Linked DNA regions of Homo sapiens. The protein of the gene in region 1 purifies or fractionates together with the protein of each later gene. This does not show direct contact. Each region holds a gene or a part of one and is shown in the gene's direction. Other genes may lie near its edges.

Region 1 (8,315 bases):
TACAGGCAGAAGCCACCACACCCAGCCACAAGAAGATTAATACAGACCTATACCTCTCACACTGTGCACAAAAAATAACTCGAAATGGATCATAGACTTACATATAAGAGCTAAACCTATAAACTTCTGAAGAAAACATAATAGAAAATAGACTTTGGTAAAATAATTCTTAGTTATAACACCAAAAGCATATGGTATTTAAAAAAAGATAAATAGGATTTCATTGAACTTAAAATAAATTTTTTTCCCTTCAAAATACATTAAGCCCTGGCAAGGGTGGCTTGCACCTGTAATCCCAGTTACTTGAGAGGCTGAGGTGGGAGGATGGCTTGAGGCCAAGAGTTCCAGGCCAGCCTGGGCTACATATAGAGATCCCATCTCTAAAAGAATTAAAACAAAATTAGCTGGGAGTGGTGGTGTGCACCTGTAGTCTCAGCTACTTGAGAAGCTAATATGGGAGGATTGCTTGAGCCTAGGAGTTTGAGGTTATGGTGGGCTATGATCAGTGCCACTACACTCCAGGCTGGGCAACAGAGTGAGACCTTGTTTCTGGGGGAAAAAGAAAAGACATCATTATGAAAAATGAAAAGACAAGTCATAAAGTCATAGACAGGAAGACAATATTTGCAAATCATGCTTCTGTTAAAGAACCTAAATCTAGAATATATAAAGAACTCTTACAAGTTGATATAAGAAGATTGTCCAGTTAAAAAATACATAAAATATTTGAGTAGGCACTTCACTAAAGAAGATATAAGAATGGCTAACAAACCAAAGATGCTCAATAGCACTAGCCATTAGGGAAACCACAATGAACCACTTCACTCCCACTGTTTTAAATTATTATAATAATTTTTTTTTTTTTTTTGGCCAGGTGCAGTGGCTCATGCCTGTAATCCCAGCACTTTGGGAGGCCGAGGCAGGCAGATCACAAGGTCAGGAATTTGAGACCAGCCTGACCAACATGGTGAAACCCAGTCTCTACTAAAAATACAAAAATTAGCCGGGCGTGGTGGCACGTGCCTGTAATCCCAGCTATTCAGGAGGCTGAGGCAGGAGAATCGCTTGAACTCAGGAGGCAGAGGTTGCAGTAAGCCAAGATTGTGCCACTGCACTCCAGCCTGGGTGACAGAGAGAGACTCCATCTAAAAAAAAAAAAAATTATTATTTTTTTAGAGACAAGGTTTCACTGTATTGCCCTGGCTGGTCTCAAACTTCTGGGCTCAAGCAATCCTCCAGCCTTGGCCTCCCAAAGTGCTAGGATTACAGGTGTGAGCCACCATGCCTAGCAATCCCTACTGTTATGAGTGAAATCAGAAAGATAGACAAGTATCAGTGAGGATATTGGGAAACTGGAAGGCTTACATATTGCTTACACTTTGGAAAACAGTTTGGCAGTATCTTAAAATGTTAAACATAAACTTATCATACAACTCTGTAATTCCACTTCTAGGGATCTACTCAAGAAAAATAAAAAACGAATGTCCATACAAAGATTTGTACACAAATGTTCATAGCAGTCTTATTTATAATAGCCCCAGATTGAAAACAACATAAATGTCCTTCAACTGGCGAATGGATAAACAAAATGTAGTACATTCATTCAAATGGAGTCTATTTGGCAATAAAAAGAAATAACTACTGACTGGTACAACGTAGATGAACCTAAAAAATATTCTGAGTGAAAGAACCCAGATGCAAAAGACTACTTATTGTATGAAACCATTTATATGAAATTGTCAGAAAGCAGATAGCAGATTGCCTAGGGCTTGGAAGGAGGGTTGACTGCAAATGCGCATAATGAATTTTTTGGGGGTGATGGAAATGTTTTAAACGTGGATTGTGGTGATGATTGCACAATTCTAGTCACTGCTTATTGTAGACATTTAGGAACTGAAAGCGACAGACATTCTATCTCAACCCAAGCTTCCATGATTACCATAGCATGGGGGAGGGAGATGTGTCTCTGCTTCTTAAAGATTCTCCTGAGAAGTGATACATGTCACCCATTTTATTGGTCAAAGCAATTAACTTCAGGGGTGCAAGAAAGTGCAAATTTTTTTTTCTTTTTTCTTCGAGACAGAGTCTCCCTCTGTCGCCTAGGCTGGAGTGCAGCGGTGCAATCTTGGCTCACTGCAATCTCGGCCTCCTGGGTTCAAGTGATTCTCTGCCTCAGCCTCCCAAATAGCTGGGATTACAGGCATGCACCACCACGCCCGGCTAATTTTTGTATTTTTAGTAGAGACAGAGTTTTGCCATGTTGGCCACGCTAGTCTGGAATTCCTGGCCTAAAGTGATCTGCCCCCCTCAGCCTCCCAAAGTGCTGGGATTACAGGCGTGGCCACCGCGCCCGGCCAGAGTGCAATTTTACTATGTGTCTGGAAGAGAGGGGAACCAGAATACTTATGAACCACCCTAAGGATGATCACAGAAATACATACAACAATAAAGGGTACAGTTTACTCTGATCAGAGTTCACTCTATATTTCCGAGGAACCACAACTACAGCAGGTTTTTTTTTTTTTTTTTTTTTTTTTTGAGGCAGTCTCACTGTGGCTCAAGTAAGCCTACCACCTCAGCCTCCTGAATAGCTGGGACTACAGGCAGGGGCCCAGCTAATTTTTAAATTTTTTGTAGAGACAGGGTCTCACTATGTGGCTCAGACTGCATACTGGTCTGGAACTCCCCAGCTCAAGTGATCCTTCTACCTTGGCCTTTCAAAGTACTGGGATTACAGGAGTGAGTTGCTGGTGGCTGGCTGACAGGTATTCTTTATACTTGACTGTGACTCCCTGAGTGTCCTTAAATCTCTGAACACTTGGTTTGCTTACACCTTTGTACTCACACGTTTGCACAGAAAAATAACACTTTTTTTTGATAGAGGCATAATTTACTTCTCTAATGTATAAGGGATTAGAATACTTTTGTGTAGCCAAAGAGCCTAAATTATTAGAGTTTCTGAGGTGGAAATGAATGCGTCTGAAGTATTGAATCACTGAAGATTTTGAAGTTGAGGCTTGGTGACCACTTTACAGAAATGTTGAGGAAAACTTAGACCAAACGTTCTCCAAAACAGATGTTCTCTGATTAGGCTTAGCTGCACAGCAAATATATCTGTTTGTGCAATATCTTTATTAATTTTTGTACTGCATCTACTTTTTAATATTTTATTTATTTATTTACCTTAATGCCACGTTCCTGAATGGGAATGCATCTACTTTTTTTTTTTTTTTTTTGAGATGGAGTTTTTGCTCTTGTTGCCTAGGCTGGAGTGCAATGGCACGATCTTGGCTCACCACAACCTCTGCCTCCTGGGTTCAAGCGATTCTCCTGTCTCAGCCTCCCGAGTAGCTGGGATTACAGGCATGTGCCACCACACCTGGCTAATTTTTGTATTTTTAGTAGAGACGGGGTTTCTCCAAGTTGATCAGGTTGGTCTCGAATTCCCGACCTCAGGTGATCTGCCTGTCTCGGCCTCCCAAAGTGCTGGAATTACAGGTGTGAGCCACCGCGCCCGGCTGCATCTGCTTTTTTTAAGTCAAAATTTTCCTCAGCCAACGTATGAAGGTCACTTAAGACGAATTTATGAGAGACGATGATGAGAATTGAAATAAAGTGAAACCTGAAAGGTAGTAGGTAAGTAGATACAGTGAGGGTACAGTAAGAAGACAGACTTAAAAGATTAGGACTATTATTCAGGAGAAGCAGAGGAGTGGAAGGGTATGACCACAATATTTAAAGTATTGAATGGTATTGGATAAAACGAATATGCTTATTTGCCAAATTCTGAGATCACAGGCTGAGGGAACCCCTTTTGAAGTATGAGCCAAATGAGCTTAGACCACAAAAGGTACTTTTTCAGAGACAGAAAAAATATGGTGTTCACTATCCCTGTGGCATAATATGGGACAAAAATATAAAATGGCTTTAAAAATATTTTGACGAAATTATAAATAAAGATTCCACACGTGGCTACTAAGAGGAGCTGGGTTGTATCTAGGTGTAAGTTAAAGAGACAAGCATACAATCTCACAGCTTGTCAGTTGGGACCCCTGTAGGCAGCAGAATCTGGGCAGGCTAAGGGTCTGCACTAATAAACAATTCTGTTTTCTTAAACCATTTTGCAGGGGACTATTCTCAGATTTCATTACAACTAGGAAGGACTGCAAAGCGGGTAAACAGAAAACAACCTTTCATCGTTAGGAAAAAAATCGTCTGAAAGTCTTTCATAAAAGCAGCTCCTGATAAGGAGTTTGGGACTGGACAGTGAATCGCTGAATAAAATTTAATCTCGACATCCTGGGTCTTCTCCCCTCTGAAGGAAATTCTAACAGCAGGCCTTAGGATGAAAGTAGAGGAAACGTGCTTCAGTTAAGGTTTTCTCCAGGGAAAAGAAATCGGCCCAGCAAGATGCACAGAGCACCGTTACGACCACGCACACCGAAGGTCGCACACGACCCTTTTCCTGTATAACAGTGCCAGCCTGCCGACGATCAGGAGCGCAGCTTTCACTATTGTGTTAGCCCCGGCGGCGGAAGGACTGAGCCTCACTGCAACGTTAAAGAGTCCTTCTTTGTTCAGCCCCAGTCGGGGACGCAGGGCGCGGTGTTCCTCCGCGCTCGCCGCGCAGTCCCTGCCCCCCCGCGGCTTTGGAGAGCTGCCATTCGGCACCGGAGTCGCTCCGCGCTCCCAGAATGCACCGGCAGTCCGCGGGAAACCAAAATGGCGAGGGGCTGTATTGAAGTGGGCTGTGTTTGAGGCCGGTGTAAGAACGCTCATTCTACCCCCAACCCTTGTCTCCAAGGACCTCGGTTTGTGCGTGCATATGTGCCGGGTACCCGGTGGGGCGGGTGCCCAGTAAGTGCTCGGACTCGCAGGGGAAGCGCCCACGGGGACGGATTGGTTGTTTTTTCCTGTATGAAGCGGTTGGCACCACTGAAGTGACCGAATGAGGTGAGAGACCTTGGCCTGGGAACCGACTCTTCCGGAGGAGATGGGGGTTGGGGGAAGGAGGAAGAAAGGAAGCAAGTATAAAAGGGAAAGATGGAGGACCAAGGTGGGGGTGGGGGCTCCTGTATGTGGGTGCCTTTGCATTTATGTGTATATTGAAAAGAATGGATGAAGAGGAGTAGTCAGTTGAGTGTTGGGAGAAAATAGGGACTAAAGGAGCGAGGAGGTCGTTGGGGGAGTCTGTTGGAGGAACAAGATGAAACGTTGAGACGGGGAAGCTGTGTTTGGAGGGCAGGAAGGAACCTGGGGGCGGGAGACGGTTGGAGGGGCAGGATGAACCTGGTGACGAGGGGGTGGGGAGCCGAGAGGAGGAGCCGTTGGGAAATGGGGGCTGAGGGAAATGTGGGGAGCAGAGTGGAGGGCTGCCTGGGACCTTAGCAGTGCGCAAAGGGAAGTAGCAGCTTGGAATCGGAGGGTGGAATTGTATGGAATTGGAGTAAAGGGGGTCGAGTGTAAGTGCTGGTAAGGATAAGGGGAACACACTGAAGTGGAGGTTGGAAGCACAACCTGAAAGCTTAAAGGGAAGCGGTGGGAGGGAAAGTGAGATGGGGGAAAGCTAGGTAGCTTATATTTGGAGCTCACCAAAAATATGAGGCTTTTCTTGTGTTTAATTAAACCTAACTCATATAATCTACGTCTAGGATGTAGATTTGTATTGTATTCATTTTTACAACTGAGGTAATTACGGCTCAAGGAATTTTAACCAATTTGCCAAGATTTCTTAACATATTTCGGTAGTGCCAGAACTCTAACTCTGTGTTTTACAATCTGGTGTCCTTGGTTGCTAGAATTTTTCTTTGGAAGCAATTAGAGGGAACAGATGGATTTATCGGGGTAATCTGACTAACAGCAAGGGTTTGTGAACAATGGGAAAAGGCTTATGGAATGTTACTCTATTCTTTAAAACATTTAACTTTGGTTAAAGATAGAAACCATGTAACACTAACTTAAATGTGAAAACCTAGCTAGGCCTGTGTGTAATACATAGGAAGGCACCATGTGAGGTCAGTACAGAGCTAGAAATATGTAAATAGTACCTGATTTAATTTGACTTCAGAACCTCCGGTAGTAATAGTAGTTACTTTCTCCTTCAGATGGATTCCATGTGACCCTCCTGTATACCTAGCCTACAAGCTGGTTTCAATTTCCATGGTTTCATTCTCTCTTGGGAATTCCTTTTTTTTTTTTTTTTGTCAGTAAATTTCAAAGATAGTTGTATGTAGAAGTAGTTAATGTGGATAAAATGTAATTAAATTCACAATAACCTTTTTAAGATTTGAAAATGCTTTAAAGGGAGTTGTTTTGACTGATGGCTTTAAGTGCCCTATAGTTTAGTTATAACTTGAGAGGGAATACAAAATGACTTGTTTTTTCAGATTCCTAAATATAAAAATGTATTTGAATTCACATTTTAAAATTAGTTCACCTGCAGTTTTTTAAAGTGCTAAAAATGTTCTAAATATTTGAATTAAGAACACACCTGCTTCCTGATACTACATTTATAATGTTAGTGGGTATTAACGGAAATGTGTAACTATCAGGATGAAATGCATACACAGTTTTAGAACTAGTTGTACAGAAATCATCTTGTTAAGCCTTTTTTCTAGATGACACAATTATATTTAATAGTTCTTTAAATCATCCCCGTTGCCTCAAAGCTCTGTTAGGAAAGACATTCTGTGTATTTTACTGTGGGTCATTAACTCTTTGATTTCATGGATTATAAATATTCCTTTTTGTGGGATCTTTGAAGGATAATTTGCTTTAATCATTTTTCAGCATAATCTTTACATCTGACTTGAGGAAACTGACAGTATATTGTTAATCTATATTTTAACAGAGAAATTTGCCTCTGAGGAGTTGCCATGACCAACATCTGTAGCTTGATGGTTCTGAAAGTAAAACTTAACTGCTGTTTTAGTTAGTCGACACTTCCATGAACGATCTTTGATGGTTAATATTTTTGTACTTTGTTTTCCCTGTTCTTCAGGAAAATTTGTTTATTGCTGTGAAATCCAGTATAACCATCCTAAATTGGAATGTAAAAGTTTCCCTGTGGATATTTCTTATATGTTAGAGTAGTGCTATCTAGTAGAAATTTCTCCAGTGATGGCAGTGTTCTATATCTGCTGTATCCAGTACAGTAGCCACTAGCTGCATGTGGGTATTGAACTCTAGAAATGTAACTAGTGAGACTAAGAAGTGAATTTATAATTTAATTCATTAAAACTAAAATTTAAATGGCCATATGTAGCAGTGCTACTGTATTGGACAGCACAGTAGTAGGGGTTATTGCATCCATGTATTGAGGAATTGTTACATTCATTAACCATGGAAACCACAGGAATCCAAGGATGAGGAAATGCCTGAGAACTGAGGAAGTTCAGATTCTTTTTGTACATTTAAGATGAAGTATTCATTTTTACCACATACCATGTCTTCTGTCATATTTCTGTTTTCATATAACATTGCAATAGAATAATGAAAGATAGTGACCTCTCTAGTCTTTTTAAAATATAAGATTCTGCTTCTGTGTCAAAAAACAACAAAAAATGGATATTAGGAACGTTTTGTTGTTTAAAAAAATTACTTTGTTTTTACACTTTGGTAGAAAAAACTTAAGGAATATTTCAAACATAATACAAAGTGAGCAGAATAGAATAGTGAGCTTTTATGTAACCATTCTTTTTTTTTTTTTTTTCTGTAAAAAGAGACAAGGTCTTGCTCTGTCACCCAGGCTGGAGTGAAGTGGTGCTATCATAACTTGCTGCTGCCTCAGACTCTTGGGCGGAAGTGATCCTCCTGCCTTAGCCTGCCGAGTAGTTAGGACTACAGGTGCACACCACCACACCTGGCTAATTTTTAAATTTTTAATTTTTTTTGTGGAGACGGGATCTTACTGTGTTGCCCAGGCTGGTCATGAACTTTTGGCCTCAAGCAGTCCTCCTGCTGTGGCCTCCTAAAGTGTTGGGATTGAGCCACTGTGCCCAGCCCATTGTTTTTATTATTTTTTAAAGGTTTATTTTTAGGTGAAGTTTACATATATTGAAATGCACAAATCTTAACTGTACAGTTGTTAATAAGTTTTATTGAGATATAATTTATATACTATAGTTATATGTACATAATTCACATGCATTCTTTGAAGGTGTACAGTTCAGTGATTTTTTTTAGTATACTCACAAAGTTGTGCAGCCATCACCATACCTAATTTCAGAATATTTTCATCATCCCAAAAAGAAAAGAAAATCTTAATCCATTAACAGTCAGTCCCCTTCACCTATCCACTATCCTCTGGCAACCAC
Region 2 (7,627 bases), on another chromosome or scaffold:
TCTGTCGTCCAGGCTGGAGTGCAGTGGCTGGATCTGGGCTCACTACAATCTCTGCCTCCCGGGTTTAAGGAATTCCCCTGCCTCAGCCTCCCGAGTAGCTGGAACTACAGGCACGCACCACGACACCCGGCTAATTTTTGTATTTTTAGCAGAGACAGGGTTTCACCATGTTGGCCAGGCTGGTCTCGAACTCCTGACCTGAAGTGATGTACCCGCCTCCGCCTCCCAAAATGCTGATCCAGACGTGAGCCACCACGCCCAGCCTAGGATAAAAATTTCTAACTTTGCCCTTGAGTGTTCTCTGTATTTGATAATTACTATTCTTTGTACTTGCCATGAGATATTTTGAAAAACATCTCTTTGGGGAATTGGTTTAAAAATTCATATTAAATTATTTTCTGGTACAATTGAGAATGTATTTAGTCAGTTTAAGTAGCAGTGACTTAAAACACACTTGTTGATCTAGTGTAGTTAGAAAAAGTTCTGATACTTTGATACCTAGCTTTGCCTTGCACAAATACATTTAAGTGAATATCTTTATGTTGGCCATTTAAAAATTTTAGGCAAATTTCTCCAAGTCATACTGGAATTTTCCCAGGATACCTTCCTTCTTTTGAGGTAGTGTGCTCAAGGATTCTGAATTTATTTCAGTATTACCCTTTACATGAGCAGTGATTGAGAAAGTTGATCTGCTTTTTAAAAACCAACAAGGACAAATCCTCCAATATAATGTATTCTGTGGTTAATTAGCAATGATTTATGGATTAGCCTTGAAGTCTTTATATCAGTATAGATGACAAATTTTCTGTAAATCATGATAGATTCTATATGAGTAGGTGAAATCTTCGGGGGAGAGCATAAGTGAACAGCAGCAATTCATTAAATTCAGAGAAAGGTTCATGGTCAGATGATACATACTTTACCTTCTGGAGGTCTTCCCTGAATTCCCACTCTTGTGTTCCCACAGGGTTTTATCATATTTTATTGTAGCATGACTCAATTGTATTGTAATCACTTGTTTATGCATCCCTCTCTTCCCTACAGTCAAAGTGCCTCCTGGTAGAGGCTCTGTCTTATTTTTTTCTTTGTATACCTAGTACCTACGTTGGTATTTGCTAGAGAATAGGGGTTTTAAATATAGTTGAATGAATTAAGGAAATATGAAAAATGTAGGGAAATAATTTGACAAAGGAACTTGCAAAGTGAACAGGATATGTTAGTATTCATGTGAGGAACTTTGAAATGTGTTTTTCTCCCTCTTTAATAGGGAATGATTACAAAGAAAAATAGTTGTCAAGGTGAACAAGTTCCAAGTTTTTCCTAGTTATAATCTGTAGTACTAAACATTAGATATCCTTTAGATGCAACTATTACACTCGGACAACTGGAGAGAACTTGATGAATCATCTGGATATTTAGTAATAGTATTTGCTTAATTTGATTTAATGTTGATATTGATGATCTCTTTGCAAAAATATAAGGAAGGGAAAGGGCGAGAGAGGGTAGTAGATCTTTTAACTGAAAAGCTGTTTTGTTATAATTCATGAGTTCTTTATTGGAGTAAATTGAGGTAGGTTTTGGAGCTAAAACTGAAGGATGTAGCGACAGTGTAATTGGATCATTTATTGGGATGCTTTTCATCATTCTTTTAAAATGATTTAAATACAGATTAGCAAATTTAGTGATACCTCAAAAGTTACAGCTGGTAAATTTCTAAGATAGTTGCACCATTCCATATCTTGCCACTGTTCCACTACTTGGTATAAAAATATGACAAATTTGTGTTTAGATTATGTGGTTAGCAGTTTCTTAATAATTGGTCTTGTTTTCCATTAACAATAGCAAGACAGAACAAGATCATAGCTCACTGCATCCTTAAACTCCTGGGCTCAAGGGATCCTCCTGTCTCAGCCTCCTGAGTAACTGGTATTACCAGTGCACACCATTGTGGTGACTTATTTAATTTTTTAATTTTTTGTAGAGATGGGATCCTGCTTTGTTGCCCACGTTGATCTCAAACTCCTGGCTCCAGGCAATCCTCCTGCCTTGGCCTCTTAAAGTACAGGGATGACAGGCTGAGCCATTGTGTTTGACCCAGATACTTTTTTTTTTTGAGACGGAGTCTCGAAAGTGATTCTTGTGCCTCAGCCTCCTGAGTAGCTGGGACTACAAGCGTGCGCCACCACGCTCGGCTAATTTATTTATTTATTATTTATTATTTATTTTTTTGAGATGCAGTGTCACTCTGTCACCTAGACTGGAGTGCAGTGGCACCATCTTGGCTCACTGCAACCTCCACCTCCTGGGTTCAAATGATTCTCCTGCCTCACCTCTCAAGTAGTTGGGATTACAGGCATGCACCACCAGGCCTGGCTAATTTTTGTATTTTTAGTAGTGATGGGATTTCACCATGTTGGCCAGGCTGGTCTCGAACTCCCGACCTCAGGTGATCCACCTGCCCTGGCCTCCCAAAGTACTAGGATTACAGGCGTCAGTCACTGTGCCCAGCCTCCGATAATTTTTATATTTTAGTAGAAACTGGGTTTCACTGTGTTGGCCAGGCTGGTCTGGAACTCCTGACCTCAAGTGATTGACCTGCCTCGTCCTCCCAAAGTGGTGGGATTATAGGTGTGAGCCACCACACCCTGCTGTGTTGTTTTTGTTTTTGTTTTTTGTTTTTGTTTTTGTTTTTTGATATGGAGTCTCACACTTGTTGCCCAGGCTGGAGTGCAGTGGCGTGATCTCGGCTCACTGCAACCTCTGCCTCCTGGGTTCAAGCGATTCTCCTACCTCAGCCTCCCGAGTAGCTGGGATTACGGGAACGCACCACCACACCTGGCTAATTTTTGTATTTTTAGTTGAGATGGGGTTTCACCACGTTGGCCAAGCTAGTCTCGAACTGCTGACCTCAGATGATCCGCCTGCCTCGGCCTCCCAAAGTGCTGGGATTACAGGCGTGAGCTACTGCGCACGCCTGGCCTGGATACTTTTTAAACATTTTTAAATTAAAAATTTTTTTTTGGAGACAGGGTCTTGTTGTCACCCAGGCTGGAGTGCAGATGCGTGATCTCAGTTCACTGCAACCTCTGCCTCCTGGGCTCAAGCGATCCTTCCATCTCAGCCTCCCAAGTAGCTGGGACTACAAGTGCATGCCACCACGCCTGGCTAATTTTTGTATTTTTTGTAGAGACAGGGTTTTGCCATGTTGCCCAGGCTGGTCTTGAACTCCTGAACTCAAGAGATCCACCTACCTCAGCCTCCCAAAGTGCTGGGATTATAGGTGTGACCCACTGCACCCAGCTTTTGTTTTTAATATTTGTAAGAACCACCTTGTGTCTGCCAACAGGCGAATTAACAAAATGTGGTATATAAACCAATGAAAACATAAAAGGAGTGAAATAAAGACGTAAAAGGAGTGAAATTTCAAAATAAAAGTAAAAAGATTTCAAAATAATTCAGACATAAAAGGAGTGAAATTCTGATACATGGATGGAGCTGGAGAATATTATGCTTAGTGAAATAAGCCAGATACAACCTTTTGTACAAAAATACAAAATTGTATGATCTCATTTATATGAGGTAGTTAGAAGAGGCAACTCTATGGAGACAGAAAGTAGAATAGAGGTTACCAGGGCTGTGAGGGGAGAGGTGAATGGGGAGTTTAATGAATACAGAGTTTCTGTTTGGAATGGTGAAAAAATTCTGGAGATGGATAATAGTGATGGTTGAACAATATTTTGAATATATTTAATGCCACAGAATTGTACACTTAAAAATGGTTAAAATGGTAAATTTTACACGATATGTATCTGTATCTATATATATCTCTCTCTATATCTATATATCTTACCAGAATACAAAATTTAATAACACACTCCGAAAACCTTTACAGATGAGGAAACTGAAGAAAACTGTCTACAGGGGAGGAGTTAAGAATTTGCCCAGGATTATTCAGCTGGGAATTTGCATTCGGGATCCAAACTTAGTTCTGTTTCACTACATATTATCTACTCCATATTATCTGTTCTGTGTTATCTGCTGGCTTTCTGGGTGATTAAAGATATGTCAGCTCCGAGAAGAATGAGTTTATTTGAATCATTCAGAAAGTTACATTTAAAAGTAGGTAATTGTAGTTTGATGGAAGGTACAGTGTGAAACCCTAGACAGACTAAAGGTTAACTTTGAGGATTTCTTTCTCAGCCAGAGTGGTAATAGTATGCATTTGAGAGGGGAGGAGAGTAGAGTTCTAAGGATGTGGTCTTTGGAGACAGTTTCTTGGGTTCCAGTCCCTGAGCTACCAATTTGTGTCTGGGGTGTTATCCTCTTGATGTCTTAGCATCCCTATCTGTAAATTGGTGAGGATAATGATAACATCTGATAAGGTGGTTGTGAGGATTAAAGGAATTGATACATGTGAAATCCTTAGAACTGTACCTGGCAAAAAGTGTTTGATAAATGATTTTCAGTTATTGTGCCAATATTATTTTAGAGTTGATGTACTTTCTCATTAATGGAACCAAACACTTCTCAAGTTAAAATTACGTGCTTAGGACTGGTAAGTTACAAAAATGGTACCACACGTTTTATCTATTTCAATTTAGAAATGTCTGTTGATTAAATGTGTTCGCTTTAAACTACTGAAACAATGTAGACATTTATAAAATGAAAGCGTATTGATCCCTGTTATCTCATTCGCTACCTTTAACGGTTTGGTGTATATTCTTCCCCAAATTTTCAAATATATTCATATATGAATATGTATTTTTACATACATTTTATAAAAATGGGACCAAGTTATTTGGTTCTAACATGGCTTTTTTTTAAGGTCAATACAAAGATCTGTTTTATTAAAAAATAATTGATATTCCTTTAGGGCTCACTATATGCTTGGTACTCTTCTAAGTCATTATTTTATATAGATACTATAATATCGAGAGATGGAGAGATTAAGTAACAACTAGTTAGTGGTAGAGGAAGGATTTTAATTTGGGTACGTTAGCTTCAAAGTCCTGATCTCCCAGCCAGGGATCATTTTTGGTAAGGCCTGTGAGCTGGAAACGTTAACACTTTTAAAAGAGTTGTAAAACAATACCACCCCACTTCCCTGAAGAACATATAAGGGAGACTAGATACCGCCTGCCAAGCCTAAAATACTTACCATGTGGCCCTTTACAGAGAAAGTTTGCTGCCCCTTGCTCTAAGCCATCCAGCTGTACCTCTTTGGTGTAAGGGGGGTGCATAGTATTCCAGTTTATGAATGTGCATTACGCAGCAAACCAATCTGTTGTGATTGACATTGTTTTCTCTCCTGAAAAGAAGTGAACATCCTTATGTATCTTTGAACATTTGTGTGACAATTTTCTATAGAGTTGGCTCTTTCAAGATTATGAACATTTCTAGTTTTAATAGGTGTTGTCAAGTTATATTAATTTTTAGTTAAAACAACAACTGTATTGAAGTATAATTTACATACAATAAAAAGCACACATTTGAAGGGTATGATTTGAGGAGTTTTGACAAATGTATGCACCTGCACCGCTGCCTGGATCAAGATCTATAATGGTTGCCATCATCTCAGAGTCCTTTCATCCTCTTTTACAGTCATTCTCTCAACTTTTTTTTTTTTCCCTCCAAGATGGAGTCTTGCTCTGTCACCCAGGCTGGAGTGCAATGGCATGATCTCGGCTCACTGCAACCTCCGCCTCCTGGGTTCAAGCAATTCTCCTGCCTCAGTCTCCCGAGTAGCTGGGATTACAGGCGTCTGCCACCACACCCAGCTAATTTTTGTAGTTTTAGGCGAGATCTCAGCTCACTGCAACCTTGACCTCCTGGGCTCAATCGAACCTCTCACCTCAGCCTCCCAAGTAGCTAGGACCACAGGCATGTACCACCATGCCCAGCTAACATTTATTATTAATATTTTTTTGTAGAGATGGGGTTTTCCTGTGTCGCCCAGGATGGTTTCCAACTCCTGGGCTCAAATGATTCTGCCTTGGCCTCCCAAAGTGTTGGGATTACAGGCATGAGCCGCGGCACCTGACTTGTAGTAAACTCTCTGAATTAATATTCCATTGTAGGCATGTGCTACAGTTTTTAAATTCATTTACCCATGGATGGACACATAGGACTGTTGTCAGCTGTTGATAAAGCTGCTATCACCATTTGTATGTCTTTCCTGGACATGTTTTAGTGGTAAATATTGATTTTACTTTGTAAGAAACCGTTAAACTCTTTTCCAAAATAGTTGTACCATTTTAAATTGAAAGTTACAGTTGTAACTGTGCAGGAGTTACAGTTTCTTCACATTTTCATTGACACTTCGTGTTGCCAGTCTTTTAAATTTTGGCCATCAAATGAGTATTAAGTATCTCATTGTGGGTTTGTGTTTCTCAGATGATCAATGATGTTGGAACATCTTTTCATATGCTTATTGGCCATTTGTGTACTTTTTTTGGTTCAAGCCTTTTGTCCCTTTAAAAAATTGGATTGTTTGTCTGGTTGAGTGGCAAGAGGTCTTTATATGTTCTGGGTACATAGTCACATTATCTGTCAGATTGTGTTGCAAATATTTTATTGTTCATTTTTGTTTGATTTTGTGTATTTTTAATACTATAAAGATCAAGTTAAAACTTTAATATGGGAAGCATAATCAGATAAATTATGTGAAACAAATTGTCCTTAATTCACGAGTCATTTAATTAGTGTAACAAAATGTTATGCATTTGCAGAAACTTGTAAACTAAAAGGATATTATTCATATGCTGTTAGGTGTATGGATGATAATTTTTTTTAATTAAACTAGTTTTGAAAATTATTGTATTTAGTAATTCTCTTCATTTTGCATAATTCAAACCTTTTCATTTATTAGTGAGTTAAGCCTTAAATTTTTTCTTCAAAGGATAAATGAGAATATTAAAAGTAAAAAGTGACCTTGATCTTAGAATGGGGTATGTAGAAATGATGATTGCCAAACTTAGTTTCCCTACTTTGACAATCAAGTAAAATTTTTTTTTTTTTTTTTTGAGACGGAGTCTTGCTCTGTCCCCCAGGCTGGAGTGCGGTGGCGCGATCTCGGCTCACTGCAAGCTCTGCCTCCTGGGTTCACGCTGTTCTCCTGCCTAAGCCTCCCGTAAATTTTTTTATTATAGAAATGGATGGCTTTTCAGATTATATATACTTGGTTTCTATACACTATTTTATTTTTGTAAAGTAGCAGTTCTTTTGCTCAACACCTGAATTGCCCCCACAATAAATTTTTAGTTTTTCTTCAATATTCAAGTAATACATAACTTTTCCTTTTCCTGTTTAACAAAGAAAAAAATATATAAAGCAAGCTGTTGGACCTCCATTGGGTGTTGTTTACCACCACTGTAGGTGATCGTGGCATTGTCCACCTCAGTCTTCTCATGGCTGTGGATTCAAGTTAAGAAATTCCTGAAGGTAGCATTCCAGGTAGTCTGTAGAACAGCCCAAACTCTCTGAATTAGTATTATCTCTGATAGGTGTTTTTTTTTTCTTTGCTTTTTTATTTGAGACGGGGTTTTGCTCTGTCACCCAGCCTGGATTTCAGTGGCACAATCTTGGCTTACTGCAACCTCCACCTCCTGGGCTGAAACAATCCTCCCAC
Region 3 (7,627 bases), on another chromosome or scaffold:
AATCGCTTGAGCCCTGGAGGCGGAGGCTGCAGTGAGCCGAGATCGCACCAGCCTGGGTGACAGACTGAGACACTGTCTCGAGGGAAAAAAAAAAAAATCAGTCTCTTATAGCCCTTGTTCTTTTTTTTTTCTCTCCTTCTCTCTTAGACTGTTTGTCTGTGGGATATAAACGCAGGACCAAAAGAAGGCAAAATTGTGGATGCTAAAGCCATCTTTACTGGCCACTCAGCTGTTGTAGAGGATGTGGCCTGGCACCTGCTGCACGAGTCATTGTTTGGATCTGTTGCTGATGATCAGAAACTTATGATGTAAGGTGGAAAATTCAGTGGGATCTTGTTAAATGGGTGACCTGAATGACCATCAGTGATTGCTGCAGGCTGTAGTTTGATTTTTTTTTTTTAAGTTATGGCTTTAAAAAACAGCTTTAGGTAGCTTACTCCTGTAATCTCAATACCTTGGGAAGCTGAGGCAGGAGGATTGCTTGAGACCAGGAGTGTGAGACTCTACACAAAATTTAAAAACAAAAAATTAGTTGGGTATGGTGGTGTGCACCTGTAGTCCTAGCTACTCAGGAGGCTGAAGTGGGAGGATCACTTATTATTTAGAAAAAAAGAAAACTAGGTATGGACATGTGAAGGAACATACTTGGTGTGGTGGTAAATATCAAAATTGAGATCCAGAGTGATGCCAGTTGGAGGTCGAGGAGGAAAATGATTTCATCAAGGTGTGGCCACAGGGCTTCATTCACTTATAATCTTATAAAGAAATACCTGAGGCAAATGTGACAAAATACTGGGCATTTGTCAAAACTAGTTTTAGGTATCAGATTGTGACATTATTCTCTACATAGTCTGTATTTTGTGTACACTTGAAATAGTTGGTAATTAAAATAGGAATCTAATTTAAAAAACAGGACTAACAGCCCTAGCTTGTTCTCTGTAGGTTTCGAATGTATCATTTAGTGGTCGAGGTCTGAATCACCAGCTGTGTGGTTGGTTTCTTCATGAAGGGGAGCACATAGTGGAGCTAGTTGTGGAGTGCAGTGACAGTGATGTGAGGCCGAATGTGAGTGTGTCATCCCTGGGTGCCGTGTGCCTTTACCTTTGTGTTTTAGATGGGACACCAGGTCCAATACCACCTCCAAGCCGAGTCACTTGGTGGATGCGCACACTGCCGAAGTCAACTGCCTCTCATTCAATCCCTACAGCGAATTTATTCTAGCCACCGGCTCTGCGGATAAGGTTTCGAAGTTTTTGCATTATTTGGTGTTTATAAAACCCAGTTCTCTTGTGCCTTAATCAGATATTTGAAAATTCTTAGGTAAAGCATAGAAATCATTTTCACTTGTTATTTTTCTTTAGACCGTAGCTTTATGGGATCTGCGTAACTTAAAATTAAAACTCCATACCTTCGAATCTCATAAAGATGAAATTTTCCAGGTATGTGACAGTTTTCTGGTGTCTGTATGTCAGGAAATGAAATCCAGGGATTCATCAGTTAAGCTATACCAGACTCGTGGGTCCACTATTGAAAAAAATGTCTTGTACGTGGTGTTACATGGAGATGCTCATAGGGTAAGGTACACCTTGTTGAAGAATTAAAAAGCTTCTGGGATGGTTATGGGGTCGAATAAATTTATTGAGATCCCAGGCTGAGTTCCTCAGTGCTGGGGAGTGCAGCCTTCCTGAGGACAGGATGGAGCTGAGCCCTTGCAGAGCACTTGAAAGTCGGGGACAAGAGAGTGAGGCCATCAGGCCAAGGATAAGATAATAGAGTGCAAGATGGGAAAATATCAGATTAGAACAACAGCCACAAACCTAGCAGCGGATGATTCTTTAAATACATTTTCAAAATTATCTATTACTAGGTCCACTGGTCTCCACATAATGAAACTATTCTGGCTTCAAGTGGTACTGACCGCCGCCTGAATGTGTGGGATTTAAGGTAACTTACAGTCCTGTGACAAGATACTGCATAAATGTGCCTATCTGGCAAGTTACATAGTCATTCATAAACTAGAAAAGCAATTTGGTAATCCCCCCTTCAAGAAACCTAATATTAAAGAAACTTCTAAGCATCTTCCTAAAGAGCCTTTGTTCTGTAAAATAGAAGTGAAGCAGCAAATGGACCATAAAATAAATTTCTCTAGTGTGAGTTTTGTCTCTTAATATTCAGGCATGAAGGTGTATGTGTCTGTTTTTGTTTTTGCATTCAAATGACTGTATTTAAAACACACTTGATATAGAGAAATCAAGATGTTAGCTGTTTTATGTCTCATTGGATCTCAGTACGTGTAGGCAGGACTGTTTTTTCTGGGTTTTTGTACCATTTACTTTGCTTTCAGTGATTCATTCTGCAGATGTGCACTCCTGCTGTGGGTTGTGTAACTGCTGGGGAGACCTTTGTGAAGGGGACAAGGACAGCCCAAGCTGTCAGAGAGCTTATGTTCTCTGGGGCCTCATTGTATAAAGAGTTTCTGCCAATTTTTAAAGTTCCTTTAGTTCAGACTTGCTGTTCTAAGAATTTTAGACTCCTTTACTTGTTCATCTGAGCCTTTAGAACTTAATAAAGTTGCTCAGTTACATACTCCTCCGTAAGATGTCATCTTAAGTTTAAATCATAAAATTACCAAAAAATAACTTATTTCCTGCTTGTATTAAATATATTGCTTTGAAGTGGACTGAATTTAGTACAGGTTGAATATCCCTTATCCAAAATACTTGGAATAAGAAGTGTTTGGGGTTTTGGAATTTTTAGGATTTTGGAATATTTGCATTATACTTTATTGGTTGAGCATCTCAAATCTGAACTGAAAGTCCAAATTCTTCTTCTTTTTCTTTTCTTTTCTTTTCTTTTTTTTTTTTTGGAGACTGAATCTTGCTCTGTCACGCAGGCTGGAGTGCAGTGGCGCAATCTTGGCTCACTGTAACCTCTGCCTCCCAGGTTCAAGCAGTTCTCATGCCTCAGCTTCCCGAGGAGGTGGGTCTACAGGTCTACAAGCACTGCCACAGCCACCATGCCCGGTTTTGTATTTTTTACTAAAAAAATAAATAAATAAAGGCAGAGCTTTGCCATATTGGCCAGGCTGGTCTCAGACTCCTGACCCCACGTGATTCTCCCGCCTTGGCCTCCCAAAGTGCTGGGATTACAGGCATGAGCCATTGCACTCGGTGTGAAAGTCCAAATTCTGAGTGTCACGTGGTGCTTAAAGTTTTGGATTTTGGAACATTTTGGATTTGGGATGCTCAACCTATATATTAAAACCAAGGCTGCCTTAATTATAGAGGCAGTAATCCTCAGTATATAGAAGAGACGCTGGAGAATAAAATGCTTGTATGTAAAACTTAAAATAGCTAATGTTCAGGGTTCTGATGGAGCAAACTCTTGCCGTGATAAATACTTGAAGATGTAGAAAACCTTTAAAGCAGACAGTTGGGGGCATTGTATTTGATTTAAAAACAATTTTAGTAGTAAAATAAAACCTAAATCAAAACTATAAAGAGGTTGTATGAAGCGTACAGCAAGGTTTGGAAGTCTGATGCCCTGGCAACTGAATTGCCCCTGAAGGTGCCAATAATTTGTGAGCATTGTGTGTAATTTCTTCTTAGAATTATTTCTTAGCTTGTTTAATATTAAAATTACATTAGATAGGGGGCCAGGCATGGCGGCTCATGTCTATAATCCCAGTACTTTGTGAGGCTGAAGCAGGAGGATCGCTTGAACCCAGGAGTTCGAGACCAACCTGGGCAACATAGACCCTGTCTCTACAAAAAATTGTAAAATTACATTAGATAAAATTTGGGATTAAAATGGTGAGTTTTAGCAACTATACTGACAGGTGGAAGATAAGTATTGTCTAGCAATCCCACAGGTTTGAGATTGTTTGGTTAGTTTTGTGGGAAGGAAAAAAATGTCTCACTTGGAGGGCTGGGTTTTGTTTTTTAGTAGTTGTTACTACTAAAGTCTTTGGGCTAGGTATAAGGACAGGGCTGATATTGATACATAAAGAGTGATTTCACTGTTGAGCACTGGCAAATTCTACAAATTGAAGTTTTTAAGAGAAAAACCATAAAAACATTTCCTTGGCTTACACATTTCTCAAAGTTTTATTGCCATATCTTTAGACAGATCTATAGTACTGATTTGTAATTATATTTTACTCCTGGGATGCAACAGGCTTTGAGTGAAGTATAGGGATTGCACATCAGTTTATGTGTAGATTTTTTTAACTATACATTTCACCTTTTAATTCTAAGGCAATAAACAGTTAATGAAGGGATTTTGAGTTAATGTTTATTATTGACAATAATTCCTCATTCTGCAACTTCAATTATGAACAACTCTAACTTATTTCCAGAAAGTAAACATCCCGTCCTTACACCAAATATAAACAGTAGCCAGATGTGGTGAGGCTGAGGCGAGAGGATCGCTTTTGAGCCCAGGAGTTCAAGGCTGTAGTGCACAGTGATCGTGCCTGTGAATGAATAGCTACTGACTGCAGCCTGGGAAACATAGCGAGGCCATGTCTCTAAGGAAAAAAAAAACCTAATTGATTGTAGTATAGAAATAAGTTGTTTTTGTGAGTGTGTTTATGTTTTAAGATTACTTTCTGGGCTGATACTGGTTTAGCAGATGTTCGTGCTACAAGAATTTCACTGATGAAAGCGTTATATTCTTTATTCTTACAGTAAAATTGGGGAAGAACAATCAGCAGAAGATGCAGAAGATGGGCCTCCAGAACTCCTGGTACGCATTGGCTTATAGAAGATGAAATGTCATATGCAGATTGGATTGTCATTGATCTCTTTATTTCGAGAATGGGTCAGAACTTCGAATTCTAGCTCTTGCAGATGGTTTCAAAATGGAGGCCCTGAAGGTTATTGCAACTGGGCTTTGACATTTATCAAAAATAGTAAATGGAGCCCAGTAGGTTTTTATGAATGTTTCACTGAGAATGGTTTGAGGTCCTGGAAAATAGTATATAGTAATTTCTCACTGATTTCAACTCTGGTATTTGTGATGGTTTGGGGATGGGGAGTGAGTATAATTGCTATTCAGTTGGCAGTACTTAACATTTCCTAACAGTATAGAAAAAATTTTAAATGCTTTTTAAGTTTCCTGCCCAGAAAAGGAGTGCTTTCTCAATCTTGATGTTAGCAGAGCCCACTATCTCCCTCCCATGCCTGATTGAAGCATCACGCATCTCCTTGGCCCTTTGAAAGCTTATGTGGTGGTATCTGCCCATCCTCATTCTTCCCGTCTGAGTCCTTCAGTGCTCACTTCGTCATTTTTCTATGAAGCATTGCCGGATTTAGCAATGGTTCCCTGTCCTTGCTCTGAATCCAACATTTGTCTCCTCCCATTATTTGGCCGATAGTCACTCATCACTCTGTCATTTACGATTTTAGTTCTAATGCCAGTACTCATTTTTGGCACACTTGTACTTTGTCCATGAGTTTTATTTATTCATTTTTTCTGTGAACCTATGGAGTATATTGAATGTCCACAAGTTTTCAAAGGTAAAGAAGGTCCTTGAGAGCAAGCCCTGCACACAGAAGATGTTCACTAAGCCCACCTTGTAAGAATGCTCCAGACCCTTTTATTTTGATGACGGCTTTACTGAGATATAATTTACATACCACACAGTTCACTTCTTTAAAGTGTACAGTTCAGTGGGGAGGGAGTGTTCTTGGGTTTTGGGGGTTTTTTTTCTTTTTTTGTTCTTGAAGTCAGTGGTTTTTAGTATATTCATAGACTTGTAAAACTATCACCACAAATCAATTCTAGAACATTATTCATCCCCTCCAAAAGAAACTATAGCTATCACCTCCCAATTCTCTTCTTCCTCCAGCCCTTGGCAACTACTGTGCTACTTTCTGGCACTATAAGATTGGGCTATTCTAGATATTTCATATAAATATGACTTTTGTCTTTTGGGACTGATTCTTTCACATAGTACAATGTTTTCAAGGTCTCCAGCTATTTTTTTTAGGGAGAAAGGAAAGCGTATTACTTTGTATATTATGCCTCTGCAACAATTCCAAGGTCCTTGAGAAAATACACTAGGATTTTGCTTTTTACAAGAGAGCTTGAAATCAAGGGACATTTGAGAGTAGTAAACTGGGCCTGGGCATGGTGGCTCCTGCCTGGAATCCCAGCACTTTGGGAGGCCAAGGCAGGTGGATCACGTGAGCCCACAAGTTCAAGACCAGGCTGGGAAACATGGCAAAACCCTGTCCTGTCTCTACCAAAAAAAAAAAAAAATACATAAATTAGCCAGGTGTGGTGGCGCGTGCCTGTAGTCCCAGCTACTTGGGAGACTGAGGTAGGAGAATCACCTGAGCCCGGGAAGTTGAGGCTGCAGTGAGCCATGATCACACCACTGCACTCCAGCCTGGGCAATGGGAGTGAGACCCTGTCCCAAAAACAAAGTAGTAAACTATTCCACCAGTATGCTTTGATAACTCCTGTATGTTTTCTAAGCCCCAGTGATCTTAAAATATATTCACCTGTGTACCCCTTAAGAGTACTCTCTCTGTCGCCCAGGCTGGAGTGCAGTGGTGCAATCTCAGCTCACTGCAACCTCTGCCTCCCGGGTTCAAGTGATTCTCCTGCCTCAGCCTCCCGAGTAGCTGGGACTACAGGTGCGCAACACCATGTCCAGCTAATTTTTGTATTTTTAGTAGAGACAGGGTTTCACCATGTTGGCCAGGATGGTCTTGATCTCTTGACCTCGTGATCCGCCCGCCTCAGCCTCCCAAAGTGGTGGGATTACAGGCGTGAGCCACCACACCCGGCCAGTATATTCACTTGTGTACCCCTTAAGAGTACTTTAAAAAGCTATTTACCTCTTTTTTTTTTAAGTCAAGGTCTGGTTCTGTCACCCAGGCTGGAGTGCAGTGGCGCAGTCTTAGTTCACTGCAACCTCCACCTCCCAGGTTCAAGCTGTCTTCCCATCTCAGCCTCCTGAGTAGCTGGGACTATGGGCACACCCCACCACGCCCGGCTAATTTTCGTATTTTTTGTAGAGACGGGGTTTTGTCATGTTGCCCAGGCTGGTCTTGAACTCCTGAGCTCGAGCCATCCGCCTGCTTTGGCCTCCCAAAGTGCTGGGATTACAGGCGTGAGTTTTACCCAGCCCCACCTCATATTTTTAACCCGATAAGATTATTCGGTAAAATAGATACATTGCATAATACCTAGTTGGCAGGCAGAGACCTCATTGTCAAACTAGAGTCAAATCAGACTTTGTCAGAAAGTGTGATGTCCCAGTTCCAAACAGTGTATTTAGTACTGTCCTTGTGAAGAAGTGTTTCGTTTAAATCTTAATTCTAAGATAAAAAAATAAGGCATAGTGCATTCCGACGAGGTTGTCTCTTGCGGGGAACAACTGCTCTCTTCAGAATTGTTTAGCAAAGCTCTCACCTTAGGCATAGCTTATGAGGGACTATCTGGAGCTATGCTTTTGGAGCCAGGGATTTTCTTTCACCCTGGTGCTGTCTGTGTACGTTGGAAAGATGGGCAAGAAGTATGCCTCTCTCAGTAAAGTGGAGAGGGGAAGAACCAGAAGACTCCTCAGGCCCCTTGTATAATAGAAGAGTATGTTACATGGCATATAACGGATTGA

The links.
Region 2: the proteins of MTF2 (region 1) and EZH2 purify together in Homo sapiens (affinity purification with mass spectrometry; 10 studies listed by BioGRID and IntAct, with this or other methods). This does not show direct contact.
Region 3: the proteins of MTF2 (region 1) and RBBP7 purify together in Homo sapiens (affinity purification with mass spectrometry; 6 studies listed by BioGRID and IntAct, with this or other methods). This does not show direct contact.

The regions. Positions count from the first base shown.
Region 1 is NC_000001.11:93,074,579-93,082,893, forward strand, and holds the start of MTF2 (metal-response element-binding transcription factor 2), read left to right. Parts: upstream 1-4,704; 5' UTR 4,705-4,948; coding exon 4,949-4,953; intron 4,954-8,315. UniProt on the Homo sapiens protein: Polycomb group (PcG) protein that specifically binds histone H3 trimethylated at 'Lys-36' (H3K36me3) and recruits the PRC2 complex, thus enhancing PRC2 H3K27me3 methylation activity.
Region 2 is NC_000007.14:148,874,292-148,881,918, reverse strand, and holds part of EZH2 (histone-lysine N-methyltransferase EZH2), read left to right. Parts: intron 1-7,627. UniProt on the Homo sapiens protein: Polycomb group (PcG) protein. Catalytic subunit of the PRC2/EED-EZH2 complex, which methylates 'Lys-9' (H3K9me) and 'Lys-27' (H3K27me) of histone H3, leading to transcriptional repression of the affected target gene.
Region 3 is NC_000023.11:16,846,363-16,853,989, reverse strand, and holds part of RBBP7 (histone-binding protein RBBP7), read left to right. Parts: intron 1-147; coding exon 148-308; intron 309-1,114; coding exon 1,115-1,241; intron 1,242-1,361; coding exon 1,362-1,439; coding exon of another isoform or gene 1,440-1,574; intron 1,575-1,867; coding exon 1,868-1,944; intron 1,945-4,688; coding exon 4,689-4,746; intron 4,747-7,627. UniProt on the Homo sapiens protein: Core histone-binding subunit that may target chromatin remodeling factors, histone acetyltransferases and histone deacetylases to their histone substrates in a manner that is regulated by nucleosomal DNA.